Homo sapiens: one gene and its partner. The protein of the gene in region 1 purifies or fractionates together with the protein of each later gene. This does not show direct contact. Each region holds a gene or a part of one and is shown on either strand. Other genes may lie near its edges. The genes, in order: MOGS and RRP1.

Evidence for each region.
Region 2: the proteins of MOGS (region 1) and RRP1 purify together in Homo sapiens (co-immunoprecipitation; 2 studies listed by BioGRID and IntAct, with this or other methods). This does not show direct contact.

Annotation. Positions count from the first base shown.
Region 1 is NC_000002.12:74,461,776-74,470,514, reverse strand, and holds the start of MOGS (mannosyl-oligosaccharide glucosidase), read left to right. Parts: upstream 1-5,132; 5' UTR 5,133-5,267; coding exon 5,268-5,619; intron 5,620-5,792; coding exon 5,793-6,019; intron 6,020-7,128; coding exon 7,129-7,325; intron 7,326-7,502; coding exon 7,503-8,739. UniProt on the Homo sapiens protein: In the context of N-glycan degradation, cleaves the distal alpha 1,2-linked glucose residue from the Glc(3)Man(9)GlcNAc(2) oligosaccharide precursor in a highly specific manner.
Region 2 is NC_000021.9:43,799,081-43,806,044, reverse strand, and holds the end of RRP1 (ribosomal RNA processing protein 1 homolog A), read right to left. Parts: intron 6,476-6,964; coding exon 6,396-6,475; intron 5,529-6,395; coding exon 5,431-5,528; intron 5,184-5,430; coding exon 5,164-5,183; intron 3,772-5,163; coding exon 3,658-3,771; intron 2,725-3,657; coding exon of another isoform or gene 2,600-2,724; exon of another isoform or gene 2,540-2,599; intron 2,534-2,539; coding exon 2,271-2,533; 3' UTR 752-2,270; downstream 1-751. UniProt on the Homo sapiens protein: Plays a critical role in the generation of 28S rRNA.

The DNA of each region.
Region 1 (8,739 bases):
CCAAATCCCACCAACTCTCTTTGTATAAAATAGAATTGATAATCTTACATACACATATACTTGCCTCTCTTCCCTGACTTACCCATTCCTTTTTAAAAACAGGCACTTCATCTACTCAGCCACCTGGGCTGGAAACCAGTGTTCTCTAGTTCTGTTCCTTTCCATTCTCTGCATATCTGGTCACTCAGTTCAGAATATTCTGTCTTTTAAAAAAGTGCCTGAAAGTTGGGCAAGGTGGCTCATACTTGTAGTCCCACCTACTCAGAAGGCTGAGACAGGAGGATCCTTTTGAGCCTAAGAGTTCAAGGCTAGAGTGAGCTGTGGTTGCACCACTACACTCTAGCCTGGTGACAGAGCAAGACACTGTCTCAAAAACAAAACAAAACTTCTGAAGTGATCTCTCCATTCCCATTCACTCTATTCATCATTATTGCATTCTGCTACCCAGTCTATTTCCTAAATATTTTTGCTGCCACTTAATTTTATCCTTCCAAAACATGCGATGGGTTTTATCTCTCACTACTCCCTGTTTAAGAAAACAGTGCCGGCCGGGCATGGTGCCTCATGCCTGTAATCCCAGCACTTTGGGATTTGGCCGAGGTGGGTGGATCATGAGGTCAGGAGTTCGAGACCAGCCCAACCAACATGGTGAAACCTCATCTCTTAAAAATACAAAAATTAGCCGGGCGTGGTGGCAGTTGCCTGTAATCCCAGCTACTCAGGAGGCTGAGGCAGGAGAACTGCTTGAACCCAAGAGGTGGAGGTTACAGTGAGCCGATACTGCACCACTGCACTCCAGCCTGGGTGACAGAGCAAGACTCCGTCTCAAAAAAAGAAAAAACATTGCCTAAACTGTTTTTCATACTTCCTCAACACTCATTAGTGTGGACCATGCAATCAATTTAGGGAGTTAAACCATTCTTTTTTTTTTTTTTTAGATAGGGTTTCGCTCTTGTTGCCCAGGCTGGAGTGCAATGGCACAATCTCAGCTCATTGCAACCTCCGCATCCCGGGTTCAAGCAATTCTCCTGCCTCAACCTCACAAGTAGCTGGGATAACAGGCATGCACCACCATGCCTAATTTTGTACTTTTAGTAGAGGGGGTTTCTCCATGTTGGTCAGGCTGGTCTCGAACTCCTGGCCTCAGGTGATCTACCCACCTCGGCCTCCCAAAGTGCTGGTATTACAGGCATGAGCCACCGCACCCAGCCTAAACCATTCTTAAAAAAATAATAATAATAAAATAAAATAAAAAAAGTAGGCCGGGTGGAGTGGCTCATGCCTGTAATCCCAGCACTTTGGGAGGCTTTGGCGGGCAGATCACTTGAGGTTGGGAGTTAGAGACCAGCCAGGCCAATATGATGAAACGCTGTCTCTACTAAAAATAAAAAAATAAAAAATAGCTGGGTGTGGTGGCAGGCACCTGTAATCTCAGCTACTCAGAAGGCTGAGACAGGAGAATCACTTGAACCCAGGAGGTGGAGGCTGCGCTGAGTGGAGATCATGCCACTGCACTCCAGCTCGGTTGATGGAGTGAGACTCTGTCTCAAAAAAAAAAAAAAAGTAGAATAGAATAAAAATTATCAGACTGAGGCTGAGTTTAATGGCTCATGCCTGTAATCCCATCACTTTGAGAGGCCGACGTGGGCGGAATCACCTGAGGTCAGGAGTTCAAGACCAACCTGACCAACATGGTGAAACCCCATCTCTACTAAAAATACAAAAAATTAGCCGGGTGTGGTGGCGGGCACCTGTAATCCCAGCCACTTGGGAGGCTGAGGCAGGAGAATTGCTTGAACCCGGGAAGTGGAGGTTGCAGTAAGCCGATAGCACCATTGCACTCTAACCTGGTTGACAAGAGCAAGGCTCCATCTCAAAAAAAAAAAAAAAAAAAATCAGACTGCATGGCACTTAGAATAGGAAGTTTAAAGAGATTAAGTCATGCTTTGTCACCCAGGCTGGAGTGCAGTGGCACAATCGTAGCTCACTGCACCCTCCATCTCCTGGGCTCAAGCAGTCCTCCCGCCTCAGCCTCCCAAGCAGCTGGAATTACAGGCGTGAGCCACCATGCCTGGCCTAATTTTTTTTTTTTTTTTTTGAGATGGAGTCTTGCTCTGTTGCCCAGGCTGGAGTGCAGTGGAGCACGATTTTAGCTCACTGCAATCTCTGTCTCCTGGGTTCAAGCGATTTCCAGCTAATTTTTGTATTTTCAGTAGAGACAGAGTTTCACCATGTTGGCCAGGCTGGTCAGGAACTCCTGACCTCAAGTAATCCACCCTCCTTGGCCTCCCGAAGTGCTAGGATTACAAGAGTAAGCCACCGTGCCCAGCCCTAATTTTTTTTTTTTTTTTTTTTTGAGACGGAGTCTTGCTCTGTCGCCGATGGTGCCATCTCAGCTCACTGCAACCTCTGCCTCCCGGGTTCAAGTGATTATCCTGCCTCAGCCTCCTAAGTAGCTGGGATTACAGGCGCGTGCCACCATGCCCAGCTAATTTTTGTGTTTTTAGTAGAGGCGGGGTTTCACCATGTTGGCCAGGCTGGTCTTGAACTCCTAACCTCAGGTGATCCACCGCCTCAGCCTTCCAAGGTGCTGGGATTACAGGCGTGAGCCACCACACCCGGCCAACCCTAATTTTTAAATTTTTTGTAGATGGGGGGGTCTCCTCATCTTGTCCAGGCTGGTCTAGAACTCCTGAACTCAAGTGATTCTCCTGCCTTGGCCTCCTAAAGTGCTGTGATTACAGACGTGAGCCACCACACCCAGCTAAAAGTATTCTTTTAGGTAACTTGTTTTAAATAAGTTGTGTGTGTATGTGTATCTGCACATACTGGGTTGCACTATGGAATTATTTCTTATTGTGAGTTGTAGGAAAATGGTTGAAAGCCACTGCTTTAGACACCTTCACAATGCTCAGCTAGGTAACAAAAGATCTGTAGACAGTGGCCTGCTGTGTACTTTGCCAGATACATTTCCCACGACCCTCCTACAGCAGCATTACTATACCTTTTCCCGGTCTAAAAGGGTGCTATCTTCAAAGGACCGTTTTTCCCCTCCCCCTTTAAAAAAGAAAGCTAGGAGGAGGCAGTATAGTGTTGTAATGAGCCAGACTGCTTGGGGTTGAGATCCTAGCTTTGTTTTTATGTAGCTGTATGACTTTAGACAAATTATTTAATCTATCAGTGCTTATTTCATTTGTAAAATGAAAATAATAGTACTTTTCTCATAGGACTGTTAAGGAGATTAAATGAATTAATATCTGTAAAGTACCTAAAACATTGCTGGGAGTGTAGTAACTGCTGTTATCTAAGAGGCCTTATTTATTCTTTTTTTTTTTTTTTTTTTTTTTTGAGACAAGAGTTTCGCTCTTGTTGCCCAGGCTGGAGTGCAATGGCACAATCTTGGCTCACTGCAATCTCTGCCTCCCGGGTTCAAGTGATTCTCCTGCCTCAGTGTCACGAGTAGCTGGGATTACAGGCATGCACCACCATGCCCAGATAATTTTGTATTTTTTAGTAGAGACGGGGTTTCTCCATGTCGGTCAGGCTGGTCTCGAACTCCCAGCCTCAGGTGATCCGCCCGCCTTTGCCTCCCAAAGTGCTGGGACTACAGGCTTGAGCCACTGCGCCTGCCCTAAGAGGCCTTATTCTAAAGTCAAAAGAACAACCTGGATTTGAGTTCCCCAGCTCCATAATTAACTGGCTGTTATTTTGGGTCAGTCTTAACTACTCTCCTCATCTGTAAAAATGGGGGTGGTCTGGCCAGGCGCGGTGGCTCACGCCTGTAATCCCAGCACTTTGGGAGGCCGAGGTGGGTGGATCACCTGAGGTCAGGAGTTCGAGACCAGCCTGGCAAACCTGGTGAAACTCCATCTCTACTAAAAATACAAAAATTAGCTGGGCGTGGTGGTGGGCACCTGTAATCCCAGCTACTCGTGAGGCTGAGGCAGGAGAATCACTTGAACCCTGGAGGCAGAGGTTGCAGTGAGCCGAGATCATGCCATTGCACTCCAGCCTGGTGACAGAGCGAGACTCCGTCTCAAAAAAAAAAAAAAAAAAAAAATGGGTATGGTTCAACATGCATTGAGTGCTGGCATTGTGCTTCTAGACTGTGAACTTGAGGTTGGGGCCATTTTCTCTGAGTCCCCAGCACCTTGCATAATGCGATATAGGGTGTACAATAAACATGTGTTGAATTTATAAATATTTAGCATCTGCCTTATGCCTATAATTGATTAGTACTGTGATACAAAGATGAAAAATGAAACAGGTATGTAATAAGTGCTACAATAAGGATGTCGACAAATGCAACGGTAGCAAGAAAGACAAAAACAGGACTAACCATTGGGTTTGGTCAGATGATTTCATAAGCAAAAAGTCTACCACTAGTGGAGAGTGGGGCCACCAGTCAGATTATAGTGAAATATAAGTGGTCGTGTTGCATAAAGCATCAGTCTCTCTCTCTCTCTCTCTCTCTCCCTCCGTCCCTCCCTCCCTCCCTCCATCTCTCTCTCTCTCTCTCTTTCTTTTTTTTTGAAACAGTTTCACTCTTGTTGCCCAAGCTGGAGTGCAATGGCGCAATATCGGCTCACTGCAACCTCCGCCTCCCAGGTTCAAGCAATTCTCCTGCCTCAGCCTCCCGAATAGCTGGGATTACAGGCACCCACCACCACACCCGGCTAATTTTTGTATTTTTAGTAGAGATGGGGTTTCACCAAGTTGACCAGGCTGGTCTCCAACTCCTCATGTCTGGTGATCCACCTGCCTCGGCCTCCCAAAGTGCTGGGATTACAGATGTGCGCCTCGGTGCCTGGCCACATCAGTCTTTTTTTTTTTTTTTTGAGACGAAGTCTCGCTCTGTCGCCCAGGCTGGAGTGCAGTGGCACAATCTCGGCTCACTGCAACCTCCGCCTCCCGGGTTCAAACGATTCTCATGCCTCAGCCCAACGTTAGATTGGTTTTTCCGAGCCTGTGAACTCCATGGGGTCGCCAGATAAACGCAATCCCGGTGGACCAACGCCCAGGACAGACGCTACGTACCAACCCTGTGTCAAGCCGCAGGCAGCGGTTCCGGACTCTGGGACTTAACCTAACGTGGCGGGGCGGGACTTCCGGCGGGAGGCGGAGGCGGAGGCGCAGGCGCTGGCTGGCAGGTGTCGCTAACCGGACGGTGGTCGCCAGGGCGAGAGGCGGGAGCCGGAGAGGTGAGGCAGGACCCGGGCTCCACTGCCGCCTCTCCGAGCTCTTGTGACGCGGACCTCAGTGCCAGGATGGCTCGGGGCGAGCGGCGGCGCCGCGCAGTGCCGGCAGAGGGAGTGCGGACAGCCGAGAGGGCGGCTCGGGGAGGCCCCGGGCGACGGGACGGCCGGGGCGGCGGGCCGCGTAGCACGGCTGGAGGAGTGGCTCTGGCCGTCGTGGTCCTGTCTTTGGCCCTGGGTATGTCGGGGCGCTGGGTGCTGGCGTGGTACCGTGCGCGGCGGGCGGTCACGCTGCACTCCGCGCCTCCTGTGTTGCCTGCCGACTCCTCCAGCCCCGCCGTGGCCCCGGACCTCTTCTGGGGAACCTACCGCCCTCACGTCTACTTCGGCATGAAGACCCGCAGCCCGAAGCCCCTCCTCACCGGTAACCGGGCCCCAGGGCGGGCAGGCAGGCGGACTCCTAATCTGGGCGCCCCAGCTTGAAGCGAGAGCAAGGGTGGGAAGGAATGGATCAGGAGAGTTATGAAGAGGGATGACCCGGAGACCCGGAGGGACAGGTCCCCTGCTCTTTGACTTACGTGGCCATTCTACCCCCAGGACTGATGTGGGCGCAGCAGGGCACCACCCCGGGGACTCCTAAGCTCAGGCACACGTGTGAGCAGGGGGACGGTGTGGGTCCCTATGGCTGGGAGTTCCACGACGGCCTCTCCTTCGGGCGCCAACACATCCAGGATGGGGCCTTAAGGCTCACCACTGAGTTCGTCAAGAGGCCTGGGGGTCAGCACGGAGGGGACTGGAGCTGGAGAGTGACTGTAGAGCCTCAGGTCAGGGCCTCAGGACACCCTTTTCTCAGCCCAGACCCCCTCCATCCTTCCCTTGCTGCCAGCAAATGCAGCATGAAGTGGGCTCTGGCTGCCTGGCTTAAATCCTGCCTTAAACAACTGCCTGTATAACCATTTCTATTTACCATCTCTAAGCCTTGATTTCCTTGCTTGTAAAATGTACAATGTAGATAATAATAGCACTTAACTCACAGGACTGTAAGAATTAAATGAAAAAGAGGCTGGGCGCGGTGGCTCACGCCTGTAATCCCAGTACTTTGGGAGGCCGAGGCTGGCGGATCACCTGAGGTCAGGAGTTCCAGACCAGCCTGACCAAAATGGAGAAACACCGTCTCTACTGAAAATATAAAATTAGCCGGGCGTGGTGGCGCATGCCTGTGATCCAAGCTACTTGGGAGGCTGAGGCAGGAGAATTGCTTGAACCAGGGAGGTGGAGGTTGCGCTGAGCCGAGATCGTGCCATTGCACTCCAGCCTGGGCAACAAGAGCAAAACTCCATCTCAAGAAAAAAAAAAAAGCCAGGCGCGGTGGCTCACGCCTGTAATCCCAGCACTTTGGGAGGCTGAGGCGGGCGGATCATGAGGTCAGGAGATGGAGACCATCCTGGCTAACACGGTGAAACCCGGTCTCTACTAAAAATACAAAAAATTAGCTGGGCGTGGTGGCGGGCGCCTATTGTCGCAGCTACTCGGGAGGCTGAGGCAGGAGAATGGCGTGAACCTGGGAGGCGGAGCTTGCAGTGAGCTGAGATCGCGCCACTGCACTCCAGCCTGGGCGACAGAGCGAGACTCCGCCTCAAAAAAAAAAAAAAAAAAAAAGAATTAAATGAAATCAACTGTGTAGAGTTCTTAGTGTAGGACATAGTACAAAAGTATACTGTTATCTCCCAGGGCACCCAGTGCAAGGCTCTTTATCTCATCCCGCTTGGGTGTACCTGGTTACCCTCAGTGACCCTCATTACTGCCAGACGTATGTTGTTTACATTACCCCTGCCTACTGTTCCTTTCCCTCACTAAGGCTGATTCTCAAGAGGGAATTCAAGAGAGAATGCCAATCTAACACTGTTCTTTTCTGTCCTCGTTGGTCACTCAGGACTCAGGTACTTCTGCCCTCCCTTTGGTCTCCCTGTTCTTCTATGTGGTGACAGATGGCAAGGAAGTCCTACTACCAGAGGTTGGGGCCAAGGGGCAGTTGAAGTTTATCAGTGGGCACACCAGTGAACTTGGTGACTTCCGCTTTACACTTTTGCCACCAACCAGTCCAGGGGATACAGCCCCCAAGTATGGCAGGTAACTGGGGGAAAAGAATGTTGGGGGATGGAAGGGGTGGTTATTCCCATTTTCACCAGTCTCCATGTCCCCTGCCTGAGACCTCCCAACCTGACTCCTGAACACTTTGTATTTCTCTTTATAATGCCCACTGCCTTCTCTTGAATAATATTTCCTATTTATCTTCTCCCCTTCAAGCTACAATGTCTTCTGGACCTCCAACCCAGGACTGCCCCTGCTGACAGAGATGGTAAAGAGTCGCCTAAATAGCTGGTTTCAGCATCGGCCCCCAGGGGCCCCCCCTGAACGCTACCTCGGCTTGCCAGGATCCCTGAAGTGGGAGGACAGAGGTCCAAGTGGGCAAGGGCAGGGGCAGTTCTTGATACAGCAGGTGACCCTGAAAATTCCCATTTCCATAGAGTTTGTGTTTGAATCAGGCAGTGCCCAGGCAGGAGGAAATCAAGCCCTGCCAAGACTGGCAGGCAGTCTACTGACCCAGGCCCTGGAGAGCCATGCTGAAGGCTTTAGAGAGCGCTTTGAGAAGACCTTCCAGCTGAAGGAGAAGGGCCTGAGCTCTGGCGAGCAGGTTTTGGGTCAGGCTGCCCTCAGCGGCCTCCTTGGTGGAATTGGCTACTTCTACGGACAAGGGCTGGTATTGCCAGACATCGGGGTGGAAGGGTCTGAGCAGAAGGTGGACCCAGCCCTCTTTCCACCCGTACCTCTTTTTACAGCAGTGCCCTCCCGGTCATTCTTCCCACGAGGCTTCCTTTGGGATGAAGGCTTTCACCAGCTGGTGGTTCAGCGGTGGGATCCCTCCCTCACCCGGGAAGCCCTTGGCCACTGGCTGGGGCTGCTAAATGCTGATGGCTGGATTGGGAGGGAGCAGATACTGGGGGATGAGGCCCGAGCCCGGGTGCCTCCAGAATTCCTAGTACAACGAGCAGTCCACGCCAACCCCCCAACCCTACTTTTGCCTGTAGCCCATATGCTAGAGGTTGGTGACCCTGACGACTTGGCTTTCCTCCGAAAGGCCTTGCCCCGCCTGCATGCCTGGTTTTCCTGGCTCCATCAGAGCCAGGCAGGCCCACTGCCACTATCTTACCGCTGGCGGGGACGGGACCCTGCCTTACCAACCTTACTGAACCCCAAGACCCTACCCTCTGGGCTGGATGACTACCCCCGGGCTTCACACCCTTCAGTAACCGAGCGGCACCTGGACCTGCGATGTTGGGTGGCACTGGGTGCCCGTGTGCTGACGCGGCTGGCAGAGCATCTGGGTGAGGCTGAGGTAGCTGCTGAGCTGGGCCCACTGGCTGCCTCACTGGAGGCAGCAGAGAGCCTGGATGAGCTGCACTGGGCCCCAGAGCTAGGAGTCTTTGCAGACTTTGGGAACCACACAAAAGCAGTACAGCTGAAGCCCAGGCCCCCTCAGGGG
Region 2 (6,964 bases), on another chromosome or scaffold:
CAGTTTCTTTTGGGCTGAAAATGGTCTAAAGTTGACTGTGGTGATGGCTGTACAACTTTGAATATGCTGAAAACTCGAATTACACACTTCAGTTGGGCGAACTGTACTCCATGTGAATTACCTCTCGATGGTTCTCTCCTGGGCTCAGGCGCTTCTCCCACCTTGGCCTCCTGAGTAGCTGGAACTACCATTCATGTGCGGAAATAAAACAACTCGGTCTCAAAAAAAACTCAACTCAAAACTCAGTCTCAAAAATAAAAAAATAAAAAAGTAAAAGAGGCTACCAATAGGAGAGGAATTCAGTCATTCATGTCATAAGCACAATGCGGTTATTTAAAACAATTCTGAATATGGGGAAACGTGCACCCAGCAGGGCCTGGAAACAGCCAGAGCGTGACAGTGCCGGCGCAGCCATGAAAAACCCCTCCCTGTGAACACACATGTGAAAGAAGATGCAAAGTCACTGTGGCTTCCAGTTTCACAACTGCAATTCGGCATCTCTAATTTGCTTTTTTCCAGAAACTTCTGTTAGCATGGTTGTTTCCTTAGCTTTTGACCAAAGAAACTTCAAAAACAAGAAAGCGTTATAATGCACCCCGTTCCCTTCCAAAGGCCTCCAACTGCAGGGGCTCGTCCCAACAGGCCCTGCTGGGGGTAAAGAGGCCAGGCCCAGGGGAACACTGACCAGGCCCAGGGGACACTGCCCAGACCTGACGCTCGCCACCGGCAGTTTACGTTAGACACGCTTGTCTTTTTTTTTTTTTTTTTGAAACAGAGTTTCCCTCTCGTTGCCCAGGCTGGAGTGCAATGGCGTGATCTTAGCTCACCACAACCTCTGCCTCCCAGGTTCAAGCAATTCTCCTGCCTCAGCCTCCCGAGTAGCTGGGATTACAGGCATGTGCCACCACGCCTGGCTAATTTTGTATTTTAGTAGAGATGGGGTTTCTCCATGTTGGTCAGTCTGGTCTCAAACTCCTGACCTCAGGTGATCTGGCCACCTCGGCCTCCCAAAGTGCTGGGATTACAGGTGTGAGCCACTGTGCCTGGCCACGCTTGTCTTTTTAAGTTCCTTTGGGGAAAGAACCCTAACCCCTAGAACAGGGGCCCTGGCCTTCCCTCTCCTTGGCCCCTAACTGTGCCCTAAGCCTGCCCCGGCCGCCCAGCTGAGTGGGACTGAAGGAGGTGTCACCAGGTGCCACCTGCCCGGGGTTGGGGGACACTCGAATGCAGCAGGGCTTTGGGGAACCGGATGCAGTCCAGGGTCTGCACAAGGCCAGCCACAGCCTAGAGGTCCTTCCTGGTCCCAGGCCCACTCCAAGCCCTGGCCTCTCGCTGGATCCCACACGGCCTGGCTGGCTGGGCACCCATGGAACAGAAGATGCGGGCAAAACCCAACGCAGCGGCCCCTTGTCACCTATGCAGGCTGTGGCCACAGCGCTGGCGGCAGACAGGCCCTTGTTCCATGCAGGTGGAAAGCCCTGGGCTACTGTCAGCTCTCCGTCGCCACAGTGGGGACCCGCCACCTCCCTCACAGGCTCCAGCAGGTGTGAAGGGGAGAGGGGCAGGGAGGACGCTGAGGGTGACCTGGCTGAGGGAAAGAGGTGCGCAGCCTGCGGACCCGCGGGTACCCAGGATGGCGGGGCGCTCCTGCCTCCAGGAACAAGGCTCTCGCGGAAGCCAGGTCTTCCCACCACACACACGCTCACCCCGGGCAATCCAGGCCTTACTGGAGCTGAATTCCTTGCACAACTCTAGACCCCAGATTGAGGGGGAAGCAAAAGAGCCCCGTCCAGACAGCCCTGTTAACACCTGGGCAGTTCTGTGAAAGGAGAAATGTCTTGCAAGATTTTTCCACAAACATGAATATAAACCACCACACTGCTCGGAGGCTGGCGCCTGCCACCTCCCACACGTCCGTAGGACACACCTGAAGCGACACTTCCCCTGGCAAGGGCTGCGCGGCATTTTATTTTCTGAACCCCCCACAGCAGGGGCGGCCAGTCCTGCTGCAGGCAGAGTTTCAGTCTTCGGAGTTTGACCTTCTGGCCCAAGGTCATCACAGCCACAGGCGGAGGCTCTGGGGAAAGGTCCAGTTCCTGGGATGCTGGCCCCTAATGATGGGCCCATCTCTCCAGTGCCGCCCTTCCCTCCCGCCTGGCACAGGAGTTCTGGAGCCACGGTCCTGAGTCTACAGAACAGCCCGGTCAGCCTCGTCCCGCGGTGCAAGCGAGGCCTGGCCTCCCTCCCTGCCTGTCCTTGGCCCGGCCACATCACTCCCTGCGTTTCTTCTTCTTCTCCGGCTCCTGGACATTGGCCGCCTTTGCTCGGGCACTGGTCAGGGGCCGAGGTGTCCTCCTTCTCTGGCGAGCCCCTCTCTGGCCACGGCCCCTGGGCTGATCTCGGAGCAGGGCCCGCTCAGCTGTGCCTGGCTGCTCACCAGCCTCTGCCCGCGCCTCGGGGTCGGCCCCTACACCCCTCCTCCTGCTCCTCTTCCTCTCCATGCCCGGGCTCGGGGGCTCCTTCTCACCTTTCCCTGACAAAACAGCAAGACCCCATGAGCCAGAGAATGCCAACACGGGCTCTTTCCACTTACTCCAACTCAGGCTGAGGATGCCAGCACCACAGACCTGGGAGGACAACACGGCCACAACAGCCAGCCAGACGCATCCCGTGTCCAGTGTGGGCGCCAAGCTCCATCCACACGGCTCAGGACCTCAGCAAGGGCTGACCTCAGAAGGACCAGCGTGAGGACAGGGTCATGAGACCCAGGAGCAAAGGCACAGAGGAGTAGGCAGGACTGGGCTCAAGGCAGAAGGGGAGGTGGAAGAACAGGACGCCAGGCAGTGCCAGGTCCTGAACGCCAGGGCCGACAGGGTTCACACAGCCAAGGGCCGGCTACAAAGAGGAGGCCACTGCCTCATGGGAAATGAGATGGACGGCTTCAATGGCACGGAGCTCTGGGCAAGGGAAGGGGTGAATCCCTAGGCCCTGGGGCCAGTTTAGCATGGAGAGAGTAACAGGGAAGGCTTCCCAGTGTGGGGCAAAGCCACCATGTGCCTCCTCTGCACCCCATTCTTGCCATGGGCCCCCTGCCCTGCCCGGCACTGTGCTCAACCCCCTCCACTGCAGGTAGGCAGCTCCAGGCCCTGAGTGGTCTGCCGCGGACCCAGGGTTGCCCCTGGTGAGGGCATCACATGCCAACCACACTCGTGTGGCCAGAGGCCCAACACGGAAGGCAGCCCCAGAAATCAAGGACAGAAGTGGAGGGAAGAAGTGGAGGGAAGAAGGGGAAGGAAGACGTGGAGAGACTCAGGAATCTCTGGAGGGTGCGGGAGAGGAGCGGACGGGGCTTGGATCTAAGACGGAGGCACGGAAGGAGGCAGCCCAGCCAGGAGGATGTCTCCAGACCGGGAGGGAGGGCAGCGCACACAGCTCGGGGGAGCTGCAGACAAGGAAGGTGGGTGGGGGAGGCAGGGAGAGGCCTACAGGAGGGATGCCGAGGACAGGGCATTTCCGGGATGCGTGGATAGCAGGCACCCAGGATGGGGGACTCGGCACTCATGCTTCAGGGGGAGACACTGCAGGTGACCCCCATCCAGGGGAGAAGCAAGCAGGTGAGGACGCCGGCTCCATGACTAACACACCCCCTAGTCCTACCTCTCTCCTGCTGCAACCTGAGCAGACGCTTCTGCTTCTTCGTCTTCTTCTGCCGCCTCCCTTCAAGCAGGCGCCTGCAGGCCTTCTCTGGGATCTCATCTTCAGGGAAAATGCCTGAGAACCAGGGCAGAAGTCAGGGGGCTCTCGGGGGCTGGGGACTTATGGTTTGAGGCTCGCTGCTTCCAGCAGGCCCCAGCCAGCACCACCTCCTGACAATGTGTGTGAGAAAGCGCCCTGTTCTAATGCCCAGGAGCAGCGTGTTCAGTACCCGCCACAGCTGAAACGAACCAGCTGAGACCCAAGCCCATCTGGAAAAGCCAGTTCCTGGAGCATCCAGGACACAGGTACAGCATAGAGCGTCCACGACCCCAAATGCCTGGGACCAGCAGTGCTTTGAATGTCAGGTTGTTTTGGAACGTCTGCATCATATTCACCAGTTCAACAGCCCTCACCTGAAAACCCCAAACAGAAAACACTGCGACGAGCATTTCCCTGGAGCTTCCTGTCAGCACTCAGCTTTGGACTTGGTGGCATTTTGGATTTGGGGTTTCAGATTAGAGACGCTCAACCTGTACACCAAAGTCTACAGCCTACAATGCTCATGCTGGCGGCCCAAGGCAACTTTCTGCATCAAAACCTGCCAGATGCACACGATCCTCACGCACCTCACTGACGCGCGCTGTCCCGAAAACCCCAGACGACCAGCCGGGCAACACAGCGAAACCCTGTCTCTACAAAAAATACAACAATTAGCCGGCGTGGTGGCGTGCGCCTGTGGTCCCAGCGACTGGGAGGCTGAGGCGGGAGGATCGCTTGAGACCAGGAGATCGAGGCTGCAGTGAGCTGCATCACACCACTGCACGCCATCCTGGGCAACAGAGCGAGACACCGCCTCAAAAAATAAAAAATAAAAAAACCAAACCCTGGACTACAGCTGATGACGCGCCCGCTGGCGGATGCAGGGGTGTGATGCTGGGATAGAGGAGCTTCACGCAAGGACAGGAAGTGCTGATGCTGGAGGCCGGCAGGGACACGCAGACATCCACTATAAAATCCTTCCAACTGAGTTGCAGGTCTGAAACTTTTCATAAGGAAACACCAGGGGAAACGCCTACGTCTCTAACCATCGACGCCCACTAGGAAACCGTCCTTCCGATAACCTATGCCAGTTCCATCCGCCACGCGCTGCCAAGAACAGACGTGTGCTGCCCAACAGACCAGCAGCAGCACCGCGGTCAGTGCTTGGGAGCCCCTGAGGCCAGCACCCCATCTCTCAGGCTCTGGGGCACTCCAATGGACACTCAAGTCTGAGAACCACTCAGCAAAAACCACAAAAACGAGAGCTGTGGAACCCTGCGCCCTGCCTCCCTGTCCCTCAGAAACACCACCAGGCCTCTCTGCAAAGAGACTCCACGTGCTATGAGACCCCTAGAACCAAACCACTCCCACGAGGATGGAGCTCCACCTCCAAGGTGGTGCCACTGTCAGTGCCCGGCCGATCCTCACCTCCTGCCAGGTCCTGCAGCCTGAAAGAGTAAGACAGATACCCACTTACCACAGCTGCGGCTTCCGCAGGAGGAGGAAGCTCCAGCTAGAGCGGCTGCAGGTTCCTAGCCAGGGGAACCCCAGGGGCTGGGGACGGTCTCAGGGTCCTAGCGGGGATCACCCCGGGGGCTGCGGAAGGGCCCAGGACAAGGCAAAGGCACCCAGATCTGAGCAAGAAAGGGCAACTCCAAGGGGAGCAGGGAGGACGCAGCGCCCTCACACACTCACTTCCGGATCACTTTGTAGAGACGCTTTCTGTTCTGAGAAGGGGTGCTCTGGCGGCTGGCCATTTCAAACAGTCTGTTAGCAACTGCCTCGTAGTCAAACTGTTTCAAAAGAGAGACGTCACAGAGGCAAGGTCAGCCACGCTCTGCGTGCTCCGAGAACGTGGAACCCCTGAGACCCAGATAGCACTTGGTCCCACTTGCAGGTTCTCCACCCGGCTCACAGGAACACAGCCCACCCTCACTGAGGGTCCTGCAGCTCCACCCACTCTACAGCACAGCGGGCACCACACAAGCTGCGGGCGCACTGCGGGGCACGCACTGCGGGGCACACTCTGGAAGATGCACACTGCGGGGCACACTGCAGGGCACACGCCCGCCGGTAGCCTGCCTGCAGCTTTACCACTCTAGGAACCACACAGACAAGCACGAACAACATAGGTTAAATTGATCAATTTTAACCCAAGATAGCCACATTTTATTCAGTCTGCAGATAATCATATTTAAAACTTAAAACATTTAAGTTTCCAATTTGCCTGAAGTCAGACCCCACTGGCTGAGTGGATTCCTCGCTGGGACCCACAGGCCAGCCGCTTGGCACATGCCATCTCATTCCCCACCAGCACCCCAACGAGGGGGCCGCAGGAAATCTGGGGGGCTGCCCATGTGTGAGGCAAGAGGACAGCGTGAGGTGAGGCCAGCCCTGGATAATGCAGTTCTGCCTGAGCCCACCCTCCCAGGCCCCAGCCCCACTTTCCCAGGCCCCAGCCCCACTCTCAATGATCCCACTCGTCTACAGGCGGGCAGGGTTGGGGCACCCATCCCTCCTTCAAAGCTAACCCCTGTCCGGGTAACTCTCCATGCCAACAGCTGCCATCCTCCCTCCTAACGCCCCCCTCCTCTTCCAGAGCAAGCGGTAGCACAGAGGGGCAAAGGCTGAGGGCACAGCCATGAGCCCAGGGAACCCACCTGGAGAACGGGGCCGCCACTGTCCCTGTCGTCACCTGCCTGCTCCTCACCAGCCTCAGGTTCAGCCCTGCAGATGGAGCCTGGAACAAAAGGGACCCCGTGAACCCTACCTGTGCCCAACGTGTGCTGGCCCCAAACATCCAGGAATGGAGAGCCCGCTCCGTGCACCCTGGTCGGAGCACGGGCACAGGCGGGAAACACCCGGGAACGGACAGCCCACCCTGCACCCTGGTCAGAACATGGGCACAGGCGGGAAAGCCCACAGCTCAAGGCAGATACTAGGTGCCATGTGACCTCTAATCTCGTATGGACAGGATGAGAGGTGCCACCTCAGGCCTGCAAAGGAAAAAAAGATGTCCCAGGGCACAGGTGCCTACACAGCCCTGAGTGGCTGACTACAAGCTGGCATCTTGGGCAACAAAGGCCATGTCAAAAGTTCTGGAAGTGAGGAGCCTCAGGGTGGCCTGGTCCAGAAGCTGTGGGAGCTGATGTTTCGGCTGGGTGCTCGAGCTAGGCTGGGCATTTGGGGCTTTGATGGCACTGTCTGCAGAAGAAAGGTTTTTGGGCAA